Linked DNA regions of Homo sapiens. The protein of the gene in region 1 interacts with the protein of each later gene in a pairwise test. Each region holds a gene or a part of one and is shown in the gene's direction. Other genes may lie near its edges. The genes, in order: ZBTB7C and RETREG1.

Region 1 (10,222 bases):
TCTCTCTGCAGCACAGCTCATTGAAGCCTCAGCCTGGGGACACCTTCCCTGGTCAGAGAGATGGAGGGGTGTCCATCAACTAATCCTACACAGGCCCTCGAGGGATCTGGGTGGGTATGGTCCATCTGAGCCCCCAGAGAAATGCAGAAGTGGAATGGTTTGTCAATAGACAAGAACCATGTTCAACGGGGCCACTCAGAACAGAACCTGGCCCCTCAGACCAAGGGCACCTTGGTGGGGCTGCCTACTTTGTGCCACTGTTCCCACAGCCTGGTACACTGTTCTCCACATCCTCCCATGCTGGATCCTTCTCCTCTTCTAGGTCTCTGCTCAAATGATGCTTCCTCAAGGAAGCCTCCCCTGTTCACCCTGGGTAAAGCGCCCCCCTCCTCTCCTCCCTTACAGCTCTGTGGTAGATAGCTGGATGAGAGATGGAGAGAAGCGAGGAGATTGATTAGTGGCTTTAGGTTGTTTCCCGTCATTTGCTTCTCTTAGACTTTTTCTTTTGAGATACTTATCGTTTCAGCTACAGTTGTAAGAGATGATACAGAGACATCTCATGTACCCTTTACGCATTTTCTCCAGTGGTAACATCTTGCAAAACCATAGTACAATATCAACCAGGATATGAACACTGGTATAATCAATATGCAGAACATTTCCATCACAAGTATCCCTCCTGTTGCCCTTTTATAGCCACACCCACTTCCCTCCCACCACCACCACCTCCTTAGTCCCTGGCAACCCTCATCTCTTCTCCATTTCTATAACTTTATCATCTCAAGAATGTTATATAAATGGAATCATGCAATATCTAACCCATTGGGATTGGCTTTTTTCACTCAGCGTAACTCCCTGGAGATTCATCAAGGCTGTTGCACATATTGAGAATTCACTCCTTTTTATTGCTGAATAGTATTCCCTGGCATGGATGTACCACAATGTTTAGCCATACACCTTTGAAGGATGTCTAGGTTATTTCCAGTTACTCACTATCGTGCACAAAGTGACCATGAACATTTGTGTATGAGTTTTTCATGGACATAAGATTTCATTTCTCTGGGGTAGATGCTCAAGAATTCAATTGCTGGGTCATATGGCGGTTGCATATTTTGTTTTTTAAGATCTGCCAAATCATTTTCTAGAATAGCTGTACCATTCTACATTCCTACCAGCAATATACGAGTGATCCTTTTCTCCACATCCTCACCAGCATTCGGTGTTATCAGTATTTTTTTATTATTTTAGCCACTATCCTATGTATGTAGTGATGTCTTATGATAGTTTTAATTTGAATTTCCCTAATGGCTCATGATATTGAACATCTTTTCAGATTAGATGGCTTATCTGCCATCTGTATACTCTGTTTGGTGAATCTTGCTGTACATTTTTATTGCAGTTGTTATGTCCCTCTAAGCTCTGTTAGAGCAGAGGCCTTCTTGATTTGTTCTCTGTGCATCCCCAGAGTACAGTACAGAGCCTGGCACAGGGAGACTACCCAATAATATTTAGAGAATGAATGCATGGACTGCCAGGGTCTCTGGCCCTTTTAAAGATGAGAAGGTGGGAAAGCAGTGAGGCCTTAGCTCTGGGAAGCCTCCTGAACACCTGGCCAGTGGGATTGCTTAGGGAACGCCTGGGCTGCCCCATGGTGGAGGAGAAGGTGAGGGCAGCGGAGGGGCACCCAGCATCCTCCATGCCTGCTGCCTTCCCAGTGCCCACTCACACTTTATGAGCGTATACTTCTCACTCCTCCCCTCCCCCTGCCTCTGCCTTCCCAGGACAGAAACATCCAGAAGATAAATGTGTAAGGATCTCCAGAACTCTTCCCACTGGGGCGTGGGGCTTTAGGATTTGTTTTCCTTTTTGTTTTCTCCCCACTTTATTTGTACCAAGATAAGGGCCAGGGCTTTGCTAGGATTTATCTAGATGAGCCATGTTGAAGCTTTGCTGTAAGTAGAAGAGCCCTATGAAGCTTGTCCAACCCACCTTATTTTATTGTTGTTGTTGTTCTGATTTGTTGTTTGTTTTGTTTTAGGCTTTTAGCAGCCTGAAGCCATGGTGTTTGTTTAGTTTCTGTCTCTAGTGATAAGTGGAAAAGAGGGATGAGGAAGGGGCTTTACTGGCCCAACCAGAAACTAACAAACAACCCATGACTATATTCTCTCCTTGGACGCCCCTACCTGCCCTGGCAGATGCCACATTTTGTCCCAGTTGACTGTGTTCACCTGGGCTGTGAGCTGTGCTTCCTGAAAGGAAGGGATGCCAGTTGTCCCCTGTCGTGCCCTGCTTTCTTCTGGTGGCTGCCACTGGCCATACTTTATGTATAACATATACAATGATAAGGTGTCTCAGAAGACGCTTCTCACCACAGGGGTTGATATTTTCATGAGGCTGACAGAATTTAGACATGAAAAATTAACTAACAATGTACTTGAATTTATATTTATATTGCATTATATTTATATTGAATATTGCATTTATATTTGTATTGAATTTAAATATTTATAGGTGAAATCACTCTCAGATATACACATATAGGAAGTTAGTGTTTTTTTTTTAAAAAAAGGATCAAGATTTACAAATGGAAGGAAACTTCAACTGCAATGAACGAGTAAGGTCAGGAAGCAAAACATACCACAAGGCCCCCATTTACTTGCTGAAAATGGGCCACGAAATTTGTTTTAAGCTTCCTAGTAGCCAGTGCAAAGTGTAAGTCTGTTACAGAATCAGAGGATTTGTGAGACAAATCAGAGCATCTTCTCAGCAGAAGCACTGAGAGGTCCTTGCCCCACAGAGGTGGGTCCTGTTCCTGCAGCCAAGGCAACAGCTAGGTTCATGAGGCTTTTCATCCTGCAGTTGTATTCTGCAACTGCATGTTGGCAAAGTGGAAATCAGTAACACCAAGCCTGAGAGAAGGCTTGCAGCCTTTGGTGAGTAGCTGACACCAGCTGCCCAGTGAGAAGCCTATCCCTAAGAGTCTTAGGGGTCCAGAGAAAAGCCCCAGCTTGTAAGCCAGGCTGTGAATTGCAGGTGAGATTTGGCAAGGCTAAGAGGTAGGAGGACTGGCCTTGCAGTGGACAGGGAGCCCTTATGCCAAGGAGGTGGCTCAGAGTCCTAGAGTTGAGACCCCTCCTGGGGCCACGCTCACTAACCCAGTCTTCTTCTCTGTGTGTCTCTGCAGGGCTCTGGCTGAGAACATGGCCAATGACATTGATGAGCTCATTGGCATTCCCTTCCCCAACCACAGCAGTGAGGTCCTGTGCAGCCTCAATGAGCAACGGCACGATGGCCTGCTGTGTGACGTGCTCCTGGTGGTGCAGGAGCAGGAGTATCGGACCCACCGCTCCGTCCTGGCTGCCTGCAGCAAGTACTTCAAGAAGCTTTTCACAGCCGGCACCCTAGCCAGCCAGCCCTACGTCTATGAGATCGACTTTGTCCAGCCTGAGGCTCTGGCTGCTATCCTGGAGTTCGCCTACACCTCCACGCTCACCATCACCGCTGGCAATGTCAAGCACATCCTCAACGCAGCCAGGATGCTGGAGATCCAGTGCATCGTGAACGTGTGCCTGGAGATCATGGAGCCTGGGGGGGACGGGGGGGAGGAGGATGACAAGGAGGACGATGACGACGACGAAGATGATGATGATGAGGAGGACGAAGAGGAGGAGGAGGAAGAGGAGGAGGATGACGATGATGACACGGAGGACTTTGCTGACCAAGAAAACTTGCCTGACCCCCAGGACATCAGCTGCCACCAAAGCCCTTCCAAGACAGACCATCTCACAGAGAAGGCCTATTCAGACACCCCCAGGGACTTCCCTGACTCCTTCCAGGCTGGCAGTCCTGGCCATCTGGGGGTGATCCGGGACTTCTCCATCGAATCTCTGCTAAGGGAGAACCTGTACCCCAAGGCCAACATCCCCGACAGGAGACCCTCCTTGTCTCCATTCGCCCCGGACTTCTTTCCACACCTCTGGCCAGGGGACTTCGGTGCCTTTGCCCAGCTGCCTGAGCAGCCCATGGACAGTGGGCCACTGGATCTGGTCATCAAGAATCGGAAGATCAAGGAGGAGGAGAAGGAGGAGCTGCCCCCACCCCCACCGCCACCCTTCCCTAATGACTTCTTCAAGGACATGTTCCCTGACCTGCCGGGGGGGCCTCTGGGACCCATCAAGGCGGAGAACGACTACGGTGCCTATCTCAACTTCCTGAGTGCCACCCACCTGGGAGGCCTCTTCCCACCCTGGCCCCTGGTAGAAGAGCGCAAGCTGAAGCCCAAGGCCTCTCAGCAGTGCCCCATCTGCCACAAAGTCATCATGGGGGCCGGGAAGCTGCCGCGGCACATGAGGACCCATACCGGGGAGAAGCCATACATGTGCACCATCTGCGAGGTCCGCTTCACCAGGTGCGCATGGCAGCCCTCGGGTGTGGGGCACGGGGCCAGAGGCCATGGGGGACAGCAGAGTTGGGCAGGGAGGCTGGCGGTGGAGACAGAGACCCAGATAGATCCCACACACATGCAGGCTCGTGGCTAGCAGGGGTGCTAGGCATCACCTGGTGCTGTGACTTTCAAGCCCTTTTTAGGGGCTGCAGTATTTTCTCAGATACAATATTAGGTGGAAGCCCATGACATGAAGCAGGTAAGAGCAGGGCTGTTCTGGCTGGGAAGGAAGTGAGGCGCCTCAAGCACCTTGGTTGCTTGGCTTCCTCTTCTCCTTCCAGCTGTAAATTTGTGGAACCCAGTTTGAATGGATGGCCCTCCCCAGATGGAGTGCCGCCCCTTTGTTTGATTTGGAGAAGCAGCCACTGACCTTTATTAAGCATATTCTGCATGCCAGGGGCCGTCCTCGGCACCTTAAGTACATGCTTACCACAGCTAGGCCCTGGGAAGATGGGGAGACGTGGTTGACTTTGTTTATGACACATCTCCCAGTGGCTAGCTGACCAAGCATGTGTGCAGCTGGAAAATGGCAGAGCTGAGACTGGAATCTCAGCCTCTGTGTAATAGCAAAGCCGGTGACCAGTAGACTGCAGAGATGCCTGTAGGTCCTCTCAATCATTTTGGGGTCAGACCTAAAGGCTGGGCCTCTTTTTATGTTCTCCTCTTTGCCTTTCCATTTAAGGAAGGGGGACAACTTTATGCTGTTATAAAATTTGAAATTTGAAATCAATACATTATAAACCTTTCATCTTTCATAGACTCTGTCCCATTCAGCAAACATATGTTATATGCCTACTCTGCACAGCAACTTTTGTACTCAAAACTGATTGGCGGGTTGACGTGGGGTCAGATCTGCCCACTGCCAGCTTTGGCTAGGCCTCACTTTTGGAAAATACGGCCCATTGGTGCTATCTCTGGTTCCTGGTGTGAGGCTGATCTTTTCAGCCATGTCCACAGGTGGGGAGGGCTCTGGTGGGTGGCCTGGCATCAGGGTTTGGTCATTTCAGTGTATCCTGTGTGTACAGAGCCTGGCGATGCCTGCCCTGTGAACATGACTTACTAGACTAGGTCCCTTCCCCACCCTGCCACTGTCCCTCTCAGAGAACTCACCTTGAGAGACCCACACTTGTTCCGGTGGCGGTGCTGCTGCCCCACTTCCTCTTGGAGATGTATCTTTGGGAATTGGTGGCAGCTCATTCTTTTGATTTTCCTCAGTGGGCCCAAAGCTTTGGCCCAAGGACACAGTGCAAGGTTGTGAATGAGACTGGATATCAAATCAGGGACTATGCTTTTCCAGGAAAAAAAAAAAAAAAAAAGATGAGTCCTCTAAAGTCATGAGACCTGTTCTTCTGGGTTGCTTGGAAACTACTGGAAGTTGCCAGAGAAGAGTTTCAGAAATCCATTCAGGTGACACTGGTGTGGCTGAAATAGCTCTGCAGGCTCCTCAGGGGACTGTTTTGAAGGAAACACTGATTATTTCCAAGGTGGCCTTGGGGTCCTGCTCACAGCTGCTTCTGTGAGGGGAACCCCAGACAGCATCTGTCCCAGGTGCTTCCAGTGACAGTAGAGGGAGAATCTGCAGGAGCAGAGGGGAAGGGCCTCACAGACCCAGGATGTGTTCCCTTGCCCTTAGCAGTGAGCTAGGCCAGCCACCCGGCAATGCTGACAGCAGGGCGCCCTGCTCCTGTTACTCCCCAGAGCAGATGGACCCAAGGTTCCTGAGATTCACCTCCCCTTGGATGTCCCTCAGTGACAGCCCTGCCACCCCAATGCCACCGTGGGTGATGCTGCCCCCTACCTCCTCCTGAATTCACCTTAGCCCCACAGAACCAGGCAGAACACCTGAACAAGGCTTGGCAAAAGCACAGGAATACCGAGGGAGATAAGCCAGAGCACCGTGTGAAAGCCAGATTCAAGTACAGCTCACCCATCTTCACGGGGGGCCTGGCTTCAGCCCGAGAGTCCCAGCCCCTGCATATGACTTTAAGGATGCCAGGAAGCTCTTCACAGGCCAGATCAGGAAAGCCAGCCATGTTATCAGCCTGGAGCGCCCTCTCCTGCCAACGCAGGCTCTGCCTCCCTAACTGCCCATGCCTGCCCCCTTGGCAGATGGCTAACAGGAGCACCTCTCCCTTCAGGGGAGACCGAGGCTGGTGACTCCAATTCCAAAAGGATCTATCTGTGTCTCAGGATATCGCACGGTGGCCCTGCTGGCACCCTGAGACCCCATCTCCCTTCTTCCCCACTCCCTTTCCTCTGGGCCTTCCCCACGCACAGCCTTCTGTGAGGTCCACGCCAGGTCTGGACAGTCTGTGCACCCTGTTTTAAGGGAAGGTTTTAACCGTGCGTAGTCACTGCAGACAGACTTCTCACCCTCTGGACCCTGGGACATTCTCTGGGAGTGGGCGTCCTGGTTTGGGCAGCAGTGCTGTGTTGTATAGGAGGGTGACATTCCAGGTTCCTCCCTCCCAGCACATTCCTGATGGTCACTTGGGGTGGCCTCTCTGTCTGCAGTCCCCACTCCCAGCCAGATGATAGGCAGTGGGGCAGCTCTGGTCATCCAGCCATCTGGCCTTGGGTTCCTCCTGCTCCAGAATGACGGCCATCTGGCCCCAGGCCTGTCTCCAGCTGAAGCTGCTGCATTGCAGCCCCCTCAGCACCCCCACCACTTGTTCCCACTGGTCTCTGACCCTCCCGAAAAAGATCAGACAAGCTCTTGGGTCCTTCTCTTCCCAGGAGGAGAGAAACCCCGAGCTGGGGAAAGGCAGGGTGGAGGAGATGGCTCCAGCCTGCCTCCCTTCAGAGGCTTTATTGCTCACTGTGGGCTGTGGCTGTCCTTGTGGGACACTCCCCACTCTCCTCCCCCTCACATTCTTCAGAATCACTGGGCCTTTGCTTCTCACCCCATCTCTGGAACTGCCCGGCAAGGATTCTTTTCCGTGCTTGAAGAGCCCCAAGCGTGGTCTGTCCAGGTTGAGGTTTTCCTGTAATTCTCCCTGTGGCCAAGGCTCCCTGCAGCCTTTCCACGGGGACCTTATTTTTGGCTGAATTCCCCAACGCGATTCCTAACACCTGCCCCTTCCACCTGGAAGCTCTTCAGCAGCCACTTAGAGCAGAGACGGCTGCCTCGTTGACGCAGAATTCCCAGACTCCCTTCCAAGGCCACGCCACTTCCTGAGACTGGGCCCTGTCATGTCACTCTTGTCCCCGCAGCAAGGACCCAGACATGCTGCCCTCAGGTCCTTCTCTCGGACATGATTTCCATTTCCCCTTCTGGAACCCGAGTCTTTCCTTCATCACAGCTGAGCTTCTGCCCTGGCAAAGCCCCATTTCCTCCCTCCTTGATGTTGGGAAGAGCTCAGGGTCTTGTGACACCCTCCCCGCCCCACCCCATGGGGTGCTGGAGAGGCCTGCCCTTCCCCTGCATGGTAGCCCTTCAGCCCAGGCTCTGAGTCACAGCCTCCCAGATGCCAGCTCCCAGAATGTCCACACCCCACGGGGACGTACTAATGACCTCAGCAGCCACAACCCAGGGGGAGGACATGGGAATCCTTCCAGCAGAGCCCCTTCACCCCTAAGGCCCTGCCTGCTGCTGTCATTCTGTGGGTCTAGAGAGGAGGGACAGAGGCCGCCCCACAATGGTATTGTCTGTTCTTTGGTGTCAGGAACCTCACCTCTGAGGCAGCTCTAGATTCCAGCCAGTCCTACCAGGTGTCCCACCACTGATCTGTTCCAAATATGAAATCTCCCTAGGCAGGGCCTCAACGGCATCAACCAAACTATTTCTTTGGCCCCATGCTGTCCCTTCCTAGCTCTGGTCACCCCATAGCCACTTGGGCTCCCTTTGCCTGTGCACTCCCTCGGTTTAGTTCAAAGACACCGTTTTCCTCCTGGGAAAGGCTTGTGCCTGTGCTGGCCACAGAGGCAGCTCCTGTCCCTTTCAGGTCTGACTTGGGACACAGAAACAGCTCCAGGTCATAGGGCAGAGGCAGTCTGGACCAAGATTACCTTAGATCCTCTTCATCAGGAATCCTTTCCCTTCTCTTCCCAGAAAGTCTGGAAGCCAGGAGCCAAAGGTTAGGATGGCAGGCTTCGGCCAGAGGTGATGCCTAGGAAGGGCCTAGAAGAACAGGGAGCATGTGATCTCAGGAAGATAAAGCATTTGTCTTCATGCACAGGGACACTGCTATGCTTGGTGGGTATTTTCCCTGCCCACGGACATCCCAGGTCCAGGTGGCCCCCGCACACCTTTTTGCCCCATCTGCAGCCATCACTGCCAACTGGGCCTGGCCCTGGGCCCTGTGAAAGCCTGTGCATCTTCCGCCTCTTAATTCCCACCACATGGGTCCTTGATTGCAGGCCATAGAGACTTGCCCCTTGCCTCCCCCAGCCCTTCTGTTAGTAGCTCCTAGAGAGCATGGCTGGCTGGTCTCCCTCCTGGAGCCCCTGCATCCTGTCACAGCCTGGCTCCCAGAGATGCCCCAGCCATGCCTGATGGGGACAGTAGTGAAGGCAAGAAACTGCAAAATGAAAACAGACTGGCCCAGAGACAGCAGAGGTCCCATAGAGCACACCGTCCTGGGTGGGGATGGACGACCTCTGCACCGCAGTCACTCTCTGACAAGGCACGCTTTCCAGTTCCGCTGAACCCCGAAGGCTGTGCCTTTTAGTCTCCACCTGCCTCCTCCAGTGCCAGCCGAATGCTGACCACCTTTGTGCCCCCACAGCTGCCTGCTCTCCAGATAAGCCAGCAGCCTGGCTTTTGTCTTCCCTCTATTTTCTTTGTAGTCCTCCCACTCCTGGCAGCTCTGGGAACCCTATTAAGATAATGTAATGGCATTAGCAGTGGTAGCAGGAAGAGTGTGTCTCAAACCATCGGGTTACAAGAAGTCCAGGTAGAGGCTGCTGGGAAAGCATTATCCTGATTGGGAGCCTTTCTGGAGGCCACAGACCTCAGGCCAAGGCCCCACAGCCCTTTTCTTTGATTCTGGGAATGAGCTCATGAGGACTCACATGACTTTCCCGACGATGAGCTCTCCAGGCTGAAAGGAGGCATGTAGACCGAGGCTTGGGTGCATATGTCCTTGGCTGTCCCTGATGCAGAGAGATGGAACGAGATGGCAGACAAGGGGACCAGGGCCAGAGGGGAGCATGTTGGATTTGTAGTCGGAGAGTTCTGAAATTGGCACCACTAGTCAGTCACCAAACGCGCAGTGAGCCTCCTCTCTATCTACATTCAGTGTTGTGTGTTGTGCAGAGTACGAAAGAGCATCCCACAGGTTCTCATCAAAGCAGGTACCAGAACTCCATGCCACGTGCAGGGAGGAGTGCTGGGAGGAGGAGGGCTGGGAGGAAGAGGGCTGGGAGGAAGGGGCACCCTGGCTCTGGGCTTGGCCTTCTGGGAGGGCCCTAAGGATAGAGCATCAGTGTCCAAGCACAAGACATGCACACACGGGGAAGGAGCCAGGGTTTACAGGGCATCCACCCTGTAATGTGGTGGGCTGTGCACTGGGGGACCGGCAGTCCAGTTCATACCTGCAGGTGTTCAAAGATGCAGAGTTGCCCAGAGTGTGGGGCAGCGTACCATGGGGGGCAGGCAGGAAGCTGGCAGAGGAGATGGCAGTGAGCTTGTGAAGAGCCCAGAAAGCCATGCTAAGGGGTAAGTGAGCACACAGGCCATTGGACAAGGGGGCCTTGGGAAGTTTTAAGTGGAACTGCCAGACCTCCATTCCTACAGAGAAGTAACTAAGAGCTCAGCTCTTGAGATTCCAGCTAGAA
Region 2 (10,731 bases), on another chromosome or scaffold:
AATTTTTAAAAATGAAACTTGTCAGCCTCCCTTCCAGACTGGCTCCTTCTCCTCCCTCATTCTAGAGAATGACAAGGGAAAAGTCTCTGAGAGTGCCTTCCCTCTGCCAGGCTTTATATCCTCCATGGTCTGGAGATACCTTTCTAAAACACAGGCTAGCCCCTCTGTGTCCTGCTGCAAGCCCACCCATGGCTCCCTGTTGCTCTCAGGACAAAGCAGAAGCTTCTAGCATCATACAGGAGGAGCCCCACTGTGAGTAGCCTCCTGCTCCTCCCACCCCATCCTCCAGCTTAGATCTCCTCCAGGTTTCCAACCAGGGCCAGGCTGGCTCCTCTCCTGCTTCCAGACTGTGCACACCATGCTTCCCCATTCCCTTTGCCCAGCGCCTTCTTCAGGGTCTTTATCCATTGTCTATACTCTAAGCACCATGAGAGAAATAAGCAGTCCTGTTCATCTTACCAGAAGCCCACAGTCAGTCTTTCAGGAATGGCTGATGACTAGTGAATGAAGCAATGAAATAATGAGTGAATGATACGCAAGTACAATGATGCAGAACCAGGACCATCAAAGGGGGTGGGGGGAAGAGGTTGCAGCAAGGACCCGACAGTGCTTTGTCTGCTGGTTCAGATTCCTGTTGGGAAGGGGTTGGAAGTTAATGTCCTGCAGTCACCCCTGTGGATCATAGGTGTGCGTGTGTTTGTGTGTGTACCTGGGGATAGACAGGTAGGCTTCCTTGGGGGATATACTCATGTTGTCATGTGACCTCCGTTCTTTTCAGTTAACCATTTTGAAGCCTTAAAAAAAAAACTTCTTTTAGGTATTAGGGAGCAATACCCCAACTGATATCTGGGTGGCCAACATCTTGGCCACCATCTTTCTGGTAAGCACATCCCTTATGGAATGCTTGTCAAACACAGACTATGCTAGTTTGAATATTTCCGTCTGTATATGCACAACAGACATTCAACATAAGTAGAAATAGTGAATTCCTTCTGTGAGCCAGGCACTGGGCTGGGCCTTGGAAGCCAGGTTAGAGACCCGGGAGATGATCTTCCTTCCTTTCCAATTGCTCTGTGCCTGCTGATGCTGTATGATACTCTTATTTATCTGTGCTTAGAGTGAACTATCCAGGTTTTCTTAGTGAGAAGAAAATTATGGAAACTTAGGAATAAGGAGCAGAGGATATAGCAAGGGGAGGAGGGTAGAATTAGTTTAATAAAAGTACCAACACAAAAAAAATTCTATCTGCAGGCTAATAAACGATACAACATATACACAAGTGTATTAGTTCATTCTCATGCTGCTATGAGGAAACACTTGAGAGTGGGTAATTTATAAAGAAAAGAGGTTTAATTGACTCACAGTTCCGCATGGCTGGGAAGGTCTCAGGAAACTTACAATCACGGCGGAAGGCATCTCTTCACAGGGTGGCAGGAGAGAGAATGAGTGCTGAGTGAAGGGAGAAGCCCCCTTATAAAGCCATCAGATCTTGCAAGCACTCAATATCACGAGAACAGCATGGGGGAAACCGCACCCATGATTCAATTACCTACACCTGGTCCCACCCTTGACACGTGGGGATTATTACAATTCAAGGTGAGATGTGGGTGGGGACACAGAGCCAAACCATATCAACGAGCCTCCTTTTGTTTAAGGAATCATGGAGCTACTGTAAGATTCTAATATATAATATTGTAGAGAAAAGAAATTTCCCCAAAATATTATGACTAGGGGGCTTTTCCCCATCATTCTAAGTCTTAGCTTGATTTTGCCCTAGGAGACTTCCTATAGTGGGAATTAATTATTCATAATTTTTCCTCTCCTATTACAAGCTTTCCACATACTCTTAGATGAGAAAAGTGAGTGGCCTCTGTTAGAGAGTTCTTATGTGCATTTGGACTTTCTTTACTGGAGCTGTCTCATTTTCTAAACTCTCATTCAGTAGCTAGAACTTTTTTTTTTCTCAGACACGTTTCCAGTTTCCTTTTCTCAGATATATATTGTCAAATCATCTAGCTCACTAGTGTTAATCACTCTGTTCCTAATATATAGCAATAAAATTTCAGAAGAGAATCTTAGTAAGATTACTTGCAGGAGTTCAAGAATGTGGCGTGTTCTTAAAACTAGGGGACAAGGTTGATTTCAACCATTGTTAGCATTATGTTTCTGTAATCTTAGCCCTGAATAAATTACTCAAGCATCACAAAGATCATTAGACAAACAACAAAACAACAACAAAATCCCACCCAGCAGCACCATTTGTATGTCTATGCCAGTGTCTACTTCTGTCATACAGTTTGTAAGTATTAGAGGTCGGAGGTGAAAAGGAAAGGTTAATTAGCCCAGCCTTTTATGCAAAACAGGTTGCATAGCATTTTCTCCATAGTAATTTTGAGAGAGAGAGAAAGGATAGACTTTACAACACATAGCTGTGGGGAAGGAGGTTTATTATTAAACAGAGATAATAAATAAGTGTTGGAAACCACACACAGCAACTGGAGCTTAGCTTTTATGTGTCTTGGTTGCCAGCAGCTTTTACTACTTCAACAGATCCTGACAACAATAATTAGAATTCAAGGGAAGCAGGAGGAAGGTGATTAATCTTGCAAACCCATTTCTGGTAGCACATCAGCACTGGTCTGGGGAACGGGGACACCTGGTTCTTCCTCTCTCCTGCCCCATGTTCTCCACACTGGCTGCAGCACACATCTGTCTAGTGACAGATTTTAGAATAGCAAACCCTGGGCTGTATCAAGCGCCAAACAAAGGCCAAATGACACAATAAAAGCATCATTTATCTTTCAAAAACTTCTCCGCTACTGCCAAGAGGGAGGACCCACACCTGGGAAAAGATTGTCTCTCTTATATGGAAGAAACCTGAATTGTTTCCACGTTGCTTTTTCCTTGACACCCAGGCCACTTTCCATCGGGTTGTCAGGATACTCCTAAGAAGGGGAGTCGGAAATGCCAGATGTTCTGTATCACCTTTAGTTAAAAACCAAGCCTCCTGTTACTAGAGACCATTCAATGTCCACTATTCCCTTTGGTGAGTTACTTAAGGAACTGTGCGTCTCCACCTGCAACCCCATGCCTCCTCTCCTGTTGAATTCCCAACAGCAGTTATTGCCCCTGTCCCCAATCCCCACACTAATGGGGGCCCTACAATTTAGGGCAGAGGCCATTTATTACAAAACGCTCTTGAAACCTGATCCCTCCACTCCTCCCCTAATTTTGGATGCACAGTTTAAGTAAGGAATCTCTTAGCACTTAGCGAAGGCTTCTTCGCTGTGGCAGATATCACAATTGTAACTGGGCCCTCATCAGACTGGGAGCTTCCTGTGGGTGGAAGCTGCATCCACAGAGCTTAGCAATGCTTTGTGTACTCGGTAGGTGCTCAGTAAGCCTTTGCCTGGGCTCTGGGAATATAACTCCTTTGAAGTACAACATACAAGCAGTAAAGTGCAGACACCTGCAGTGAATGTACAGATCAATGGATTCCACGTGTGTATACACAGAGGTTTACAATGGCCACCCAGAGGAGCGTTACAGAACATTCCCCTAGAGACTCCCTTGACGCAGGGAATTTAATTGCCCTCCCTTCCATCCTGTGCAGGCAGGCTGGTTGCCAGTAAAGGGATATGAGATGCCCTGATGCATCCGCAGACAGAACCCTTAGTATGGGGGGGAAGGACCTGTCATTCTAGAGTAAAAGTAAGACCAGGAAGATTAAAGAAGACAAAAATTTAAAAATGCAAATGGTGAAAAGCATAAACAACTATTTTCCTCTCTCCCCACACTCACCCAGAAGCACCGGGGCCAAAGAGAGGGCATGGGAGGTCTCAGGATCCCCTGCCGCCCCACCACTGCCCTGATGCCCGCTTGTGACGCAGAGACCGGAGTGGCTCTGAAATTACTGTCTTCAAAGCAGGCCAAACCTTGCTTGACACGTGCAAAGTTCCAATCTCTTGCTTCTCAGCTCCCCGCACGCGCGGGCCAACGTGCACTTCTGAGCCAGATCACCTAGCCACAAGGAGGGGGAGAGAGGGGGAGATAGGAGGAGAGAGGGGAAGATAGGGGGAGAGACGGGGGAGAGAGAGGGAGAGGCAGAGAGAGAGAGAGAGACAGAGAAGAGAAAGGAAGCACCTGAGACAGAGAGAAAGAAGAGAGAGAAAGGAAGCAGCTTCCCCCAACGCTGCGGCCTTGTGTTTCCTCCCGTGTCAAACGAGAGGGCCCCAAATTGACCCCAAATGTTTTTTCTTCCTTTCTCAATCCAACATTTATACCAGCACGTTATTTCCAGGATGCCCAGGACCTCTGCTATGGTTGTGCTGCTGTCCCTGCAAAGGCGCTGGGGATGGCCGAGGTGGGGGATGTCTCTGGGGGCTGAAATACGCTGCCAGGGGAAGGGGCGCCCCGATACCACCCTCAGTGGCTGCTGGTTGGGCGACCGGTGGCCCTGGCTTGAGAAAGTGAAAATGTCCAATCTATTTTGCCTGGAGCCTTGGGTCTCTTTTGGATACGGAACCGAGCAGCAGTCCTCCACTTCGCCCTCTCCCGCCGCTGCAAGGGAAAAGGTCGTTTTCCTCGAGTCCCGGAGAGGCCCTCCAGGAACCCAGAGCCCCCCGGGGACACCGCCCAGCTCCCGGCGCCCGGCCCCGCCCCTGCGCGAACTCGGCCGCACCCACTTTCCCGGGCGGCTCCCCCTCCGTGGCCTGTGGCGTCACAAGGCCCCCAGCCGCCTGTGCCCCGCGGTGCGCGCCCCGCTCCGGGACCTGCCGCCACCGCCGCCCCGCCCTCGGCGGCACCCACACCCAGGCGCGCCCGCGCGCGCGCCCGGCCCCGTCCCTGTCTGGAAGCACAGCTGAAGATGGCGAGCCCGGCGCCTCCGGAGCACGCCGAGGAGGGATGCCCGGCTCCTGCCGCCGAGGAGCAGGCGCCGCCGTCGCCGCCACCGCCCCAGGCATCCCCCGCAGAGCGGCAGCAGCAGGAGGAGGAAGCGCAGGAAGCTGGGGCGGCGGAGGGCGCGGGGTTGCAGGTGGAGGAGGCCGCGGGCCGGGCGGCGGCCGCGGTAACCTGGCTGCTCGGGGAGCCGGTGCTGTGGCTGGGCTGCCGCGCCGACGAGCTGCTGAGCTGGAAGAGGCCGCTGCGGAGCCTGCTCGGCTTCGTCGCTGCCAACCTGCTGTTCTGGTGAGAGCTTGGGCAAGGTGGGGGCGCTGAGGAGGGCAGGTGACCTTGGGGCGCCCGGGGCCCCGGGGACCCAGTGCAGGGGGAGCCCGCGGGACACTGCGGAGGAAGAATTGTCAGCCCTGCCCCACTTTCTCGGCCACCTGTCTCGAACAGGTAGACACTCACCGCAACTTTCCTCCGGACGCACGTCCCTGTGAGCAGTTGTCGTTCTCCGTGTGCGGATCCAGCCTCAGATGCGAGGTGGTCGGCCGACCCTCAGGCACCTGCACCTACAGGTGTTCCCATCGTGCTTGAAAACTTCGCCCCTGCTTTCTAAAACTCTGAGGTCTTGACCTGCTCGCCCAAGCTTGCCGGAGCAAACGTGCTTGAACGTGTCTTGGTTCTTGCAGCCCCAGCAGGCATATCTGGACCAGATTAGGTACCCGTTCAAAACGGTGCCGCATTCATCAGTCACCTGAGATGGGCCCTGAATGATTTGTTTTTTCCTTCCCCTGGAGCGTTAGGTTTACTGTGTTTACTCCCTGATGAGAAAACGGGAGGCAAACAAGCAGGTGGAGTATGCCCAGCACCCACCCCCGGGTGTGCACAGTGTGGAAAACAGGCATATTTTTAGGTGAAGTACAGGGAGAACACACGGGAATGCTCAGCCCCTGAGCAACAGGTTTGTCTCTCCAAAAAGCGCTCTTCAGAAAGGCCAGGGAAATGTCTGTCTCCTTCGTTGAAAGTGGTGTCCTGTCATCCGTTACCACGCTATTGAGGGCGGAGAAAAACCTTCTTTGTTTGCTAAGTGTCCTCATAACAAACATGACCTACACAGTGCAGAATAATCAGACTCCGGTAACAGATACCTTGTTACAGGACAGAGATTTCTGAACCTTAAAGTTGAGAAATAAATAAATTGCACAAAATAGACAGCCTGTCATTTTCTAGGTTAACTTGAGCAAGATGAATATTTTCCTCAGATCTCTGCTAGTCCTGGTGTTTTCTCTTAAAACTAGCTGTATCTTGTCGGAGGTCCCTGAAAGTGAATTAACTTTGGATCTCTTAGGTATCTGTGTTTGGAATAGAGTTTATTCCAAATCTATCTTATTATGGAGTGAATGCGAGCACTCAAATAAGAAGGACATATTGTCTTATGCTAGATTGGGCAATAGTCTAATAGTCTTAGGGCTGTGTCTCACTAATGTTTACGATGTTTTTAACATTTTATTTCTTTTTCTTTTCTTTCTTTCTTTCTTTTTTTTTTTTTTTTGAGATGGAGTCTCACTCTGTCGCCCAGGCTGGAGTGCAGTGGCGCGATCTCGGCTCGCTGCAAGCTCTGCCTCCCGGGTTCACGCCATTCTCCTGCCTCAGCCTCCCGAGTAGCTGGGACTACAGGCGCCCGCCACCACGCCTGGCCAGTTTTTTGTATTTTTTTTAGTAGAGACGGGGTTTCACCGTGTTAGCCAGGATGGTCTCGATCTCCTGACCTCGTGATCCGTCCGCCTCGGCCTCCCAAAGTGCTGGGATTACAAGCGTGAGCTACTGCGCCCGGCCTTAACATTTTATTTCTTAATTTTAAATTTTATTTCTTTAAAAAACTAATACAGTCTCACAGTGCAAAAGTTTAAAGGTACAAAAGGGTAAGCATTTTGAAAATCTCTTTCTCATCCCAGTCCCTGGCCGCCCAGTTTCCTCACGGAGGCCAGCAATGTTGCTAGTTTCCTGTGTCTCTTTCCAGATAGTGCACATTTCAGCAAATACACCATATTCTATGCAAATTGTGGAATAACATATGAGCTCTTCCTTTTCCTAGTATTTCTTGGTGATTGCTTCCTTGTTCTTTTTCAGCTGCTTCAGAATTCTATTGTAAGGATGTCTCAAATTACTTAACCTGTCTCCTACTGAGGCAGTAATGTTTCCAAGCTTTTGCTATTTCAGCATTATAGCTAATGACCCTGTACATGCATCATTTTGCATATATGCAAGTATTTTAGAGAACTTCCCAGAAGTGGAATTGCTGGGTCAGAGGGCATGTGCACTTGTAATTTTGATGGCTGTCACCATATTGCATGCAGCTCCTTAGGGTTCTAACAATTTATACTCCCACCAGCAATGTGTATGACTGCCTGCTTTGCCACACTCTTGCGAAGAATATTTTATGAAACTTTTTGATCCTGCAAATCTGATAGGTGAAAAAGACTATCCCAAAATGATTTTATTTTGCAGTTCTCTGTGATTGAGCATTTTATCTTATGTTTAAGAACTACCACATTTACCATTTATCAGCATTGTTTGTTTATAAATAACCTTTGTCTATTTTTTCAAGTAGGCCAGTGTTCTTTTCCTTATTGATTTATAGGAGCTGTTTTTATATTAAAGACTTTAGCCTAATTTCTGTAACATGAGTTGCAAACTTTTTTCTATGATGTTTTCTTTAATGACACCTATTGAAAATAATGTTTTTGCATAAAATAATTGAAAGGCATATTTGATAGTATCCAGGGGTGTTTTCTTCCATCCATTTTATTTATACTGACGGAGAGGAAAACATTGGCCAGCCATTCAGCCTAGATACAGCCTTCTCCTTATCTGTTTTATTTCATCTCCTGTTTGTGGCATCTGCATTCCATGCATGTATTTTCTTTGACAAAAATGACTGTCCTGTTCTTTAAGTTCAGAATTACTTGTTGCTTTTGCATTATAATTCATTGGAATTTATGACCCATTTATTAATGTCATTAAAATTTTGTTTTTTTTTCCCTTTTATTTGTTGCTCTGGGGGTTAAAATGATTTTCAAGGACATTACGTTTTCTTTAAATAATGTATTTCTTCTCAAATGATCTTAAATTATGTGATACTCTAACCTTCTGTGTCTTGGGAACTCTAAAGCACTGTATTTTCTATGAGAAAAAAAGATCAATTTTAAAACTGTGGGGAACCCAACCAAATCTGTCTTAAGCAATGGGATGTTGTTTTCACTTTAATTGATGTATTTCATTTTTGTGGAAGTAAACTTTTTAAAGATATATTTTTGAATGATTTAGCACCTGGCATTAGCAGTGGGTTTTAGGAGTCTGAATTTGACTCAAAAGCTTCAACATTTATTACCTGCCCATTATCTGCAAGATTTTGGGCAAAAATTGTGACACAGCCGTAACCAATGGGTATAACTAAAAGTTGCATGAATTAAGTGTGGTGGAAGATTCAGGAAAGGATAATTCATTTTGATATGGTTTTGGGGAACGTGGTATTGTGGATGGAAGAGATTGTGGGGTTCTTAATAAGGAGATCATGCTTAAACCTCAGTGGATAAGAATGATTTGGGAGATCTAGTAGATGATCAAGAGCATTCTAACCCTGAGGAATACAATGAACACAATAGCATCTTGAAGGTGTACCTAATATTTCAACCACTACACAGTAAACAGATGCAATGGCAGCATGGGCTGGTAGAAAATGTAGTGGGAGATAAGGTTGGCTAGGTGGTTTGTGGGGGCAGTAGTTGCCTCAGATGCTATGTTGTGTGTTTGGATTTGTTTTTTCTGTAGGCAACAGGGACCAAAAAAAAAAATACTTTGTAGAAGTATCCACAAATAATTTAATGGATAAGTACACTGTGGTTCATTTATTTATTATAAATTGTGATACCATATAACAATGAAAATACAGCTTTAGCAACAACAGGGATGAATTTTACAAATGTAATTTTGGTCAAAAGATGCACAAAGTAATATATGCTGAATGATTCAATTAAGTTTTAAATGGTGCAGGAACTGAACAGGATTGGTTAGGGATACACACATAGGGGATAAAACTACAAAGAAAATAAAAGACATTCTCGAATCCGAGACGTGCAGGCACACACACACACATATGCATTCTTATCTATGGTATATTTTATGAAAAATACTGAAATATGAAAAAATGCTAAAAAATGATATTCATGAGAACTCAGAGGAGTTTGGTAAAATAGAGGCCACATAGAGTGCCTGTCTCAAAAAGCAGGGTTTCCACAACTGAAGTAGATTGGGTAACAGTCCCATAGTTTTGTGGTGATGAGGGGCCTCAGATAATACTATCTCACTCATTTCACCAATGAAGAACATGTTTTTAGAATTTTTTCCTTCATTTAAAATTTTATTTATTTAAAAATTAACTAACATAGCCTTACAGTTCAGATGTTTAAATGTACAGAAGGGTAAACATTTTGATGTCTTCCCACGCCTGTCCCTGTCTACGCAGTTTCCTCTCAGAAGCAACCCATGTTGTACTTGTAAGCACATCCTGAAATGGAATGAGCCCAATGTAATAGAAAATGTTGGTTTTTTTTTAAATATCAACTTTTTGTGGTTTACCACCAATAAAATGCCCATACTGTAAGTATACAGTCAAATGTATCATATGTGCCTGTGTAACCATACTGGCAGTTGAGATCTAGAATATTTCATCACCCTTAAAGGCTTCTTTGCATCCCTGTTCTATCAGCACCCACCCCTGGGGACTGATCTGTTTCTGTCACTGTTGACTAGGTTGGACTTCCCTAAAGCTTTGTATAAATGGTGTTATTTAGGGTGATAGGGTGATGTCCTTTTTTTTTTTTTTTTGAGACGGAGTCTCTCTCTCTCTCCCAGACTGGAGTGCAGTGGTGCGATCTTGGCTCACTGCAACCTCCACCTCCTGGGTTCTAGCGATTCTCCTGCCTCAGCCTCCCGAGTAGCTGGGACTACAGGCACATGCCACCAAGCCTGGCTAATTTTTGTATTTTTAGTGGTGACAGGGTTTCACCATATTGGTCAGGCTGGTCACGAACTCCTGATCTCAGGTGATCTGCCTGCCTCAGCCTCCTAAAGTGTGTGATGTCTTTTGTGTCTGGCTTTGCTTACTCAGCGTAGTTTTGTGATTCATCTCTGCTGTGTGTATCAGTTATTTGCTGCTTTGTATTGCTGGGTAGTGTACCACTTTGATGATGTACCACAATTTGTTTATCCATTTGCTAGTTGATGTTCCTTCAGGTAGTTTTCATGTTTGACTATTATGAATAAAGCTATTGGAAAACATCACGTAGAAATCTTTGTGTGAAGTGTCTGTTTTTGGTGAGGAAAGTGGTAAGCCCTGATGGTTGCCTTGGATAGGCACAGAATGGAGTGAAAGGTCCGTTTCCTAAGTCTTGCTGATCGCTGTATTGAAATTTAATGGCTTATGATGCAGCTCCTCTTTTGGGCATGTTACATCTGCAGCCTAGAAAGCGTCTCTGATGTGATTTTTTTTTTTATTCAAGTTCTAGGGTACGTGTGCACAACGTGCAGGTTTGTTACGTATGTATACATGTGCCATGTTGGTGTGCTGCACCCATTAACTCATCATTTACATTAGATGTATCTCCTAATGCTATCCCTCCCCACTCCCCCGACCCCATGACAGGCCCTGGTGTGTGATGTTCCCCTTCCTGTGTCCAAGTGTTCTCATTGTTCAGTTTCCACCTATAAGTGAGAACATGCAGTGTTTGGTTTTTTTGTCCTTGTGATAGTTTCCTGAGAATGGTTTCCAGCTTCATTCATGTC

Evidence for each region.
Region 2: the proteins of ZBTB7C (region 1) and RETREG1 interact in a two-hybrid assay, tested with the Homo sapiens proteins (one study listed by IntAct).

What each region holds. Positions count from the first base shown.
Region 1 is NC_000018.10:48,034,086-48,044,307, reverse strand, and holds part of ZBTB7C (zinc finger and BTB domain-containing protein 7C), read left to right. Parts: intron 1-3,184; coding exon of another isoform or gene 3,185-3,200; coding exon 3,201-4,408; intron 4,409-10,222. UniProt on the Homo sapiens protein: May be a tumor suppressor gene.
Region 2 is NC_000005.10:16,611,108-16,621,838, reverse strand, and holds the start of RETREG1 (reticulophagy regulator 1), read left to right. Parts: upstream 1-4,841; 5' UTR 4,842-4,867; coding exon 4,868-5,187; intron 5,188-5,352; exon of another isoform or gene 5,353-5,913; intron 5,914-10,731. UniProt on the Homo sapiens protein: Endoplasmic reticulum (ER)-anchored autophagy regulator which mediates ER delivery into lysosomes through sequestration into autophagosomes.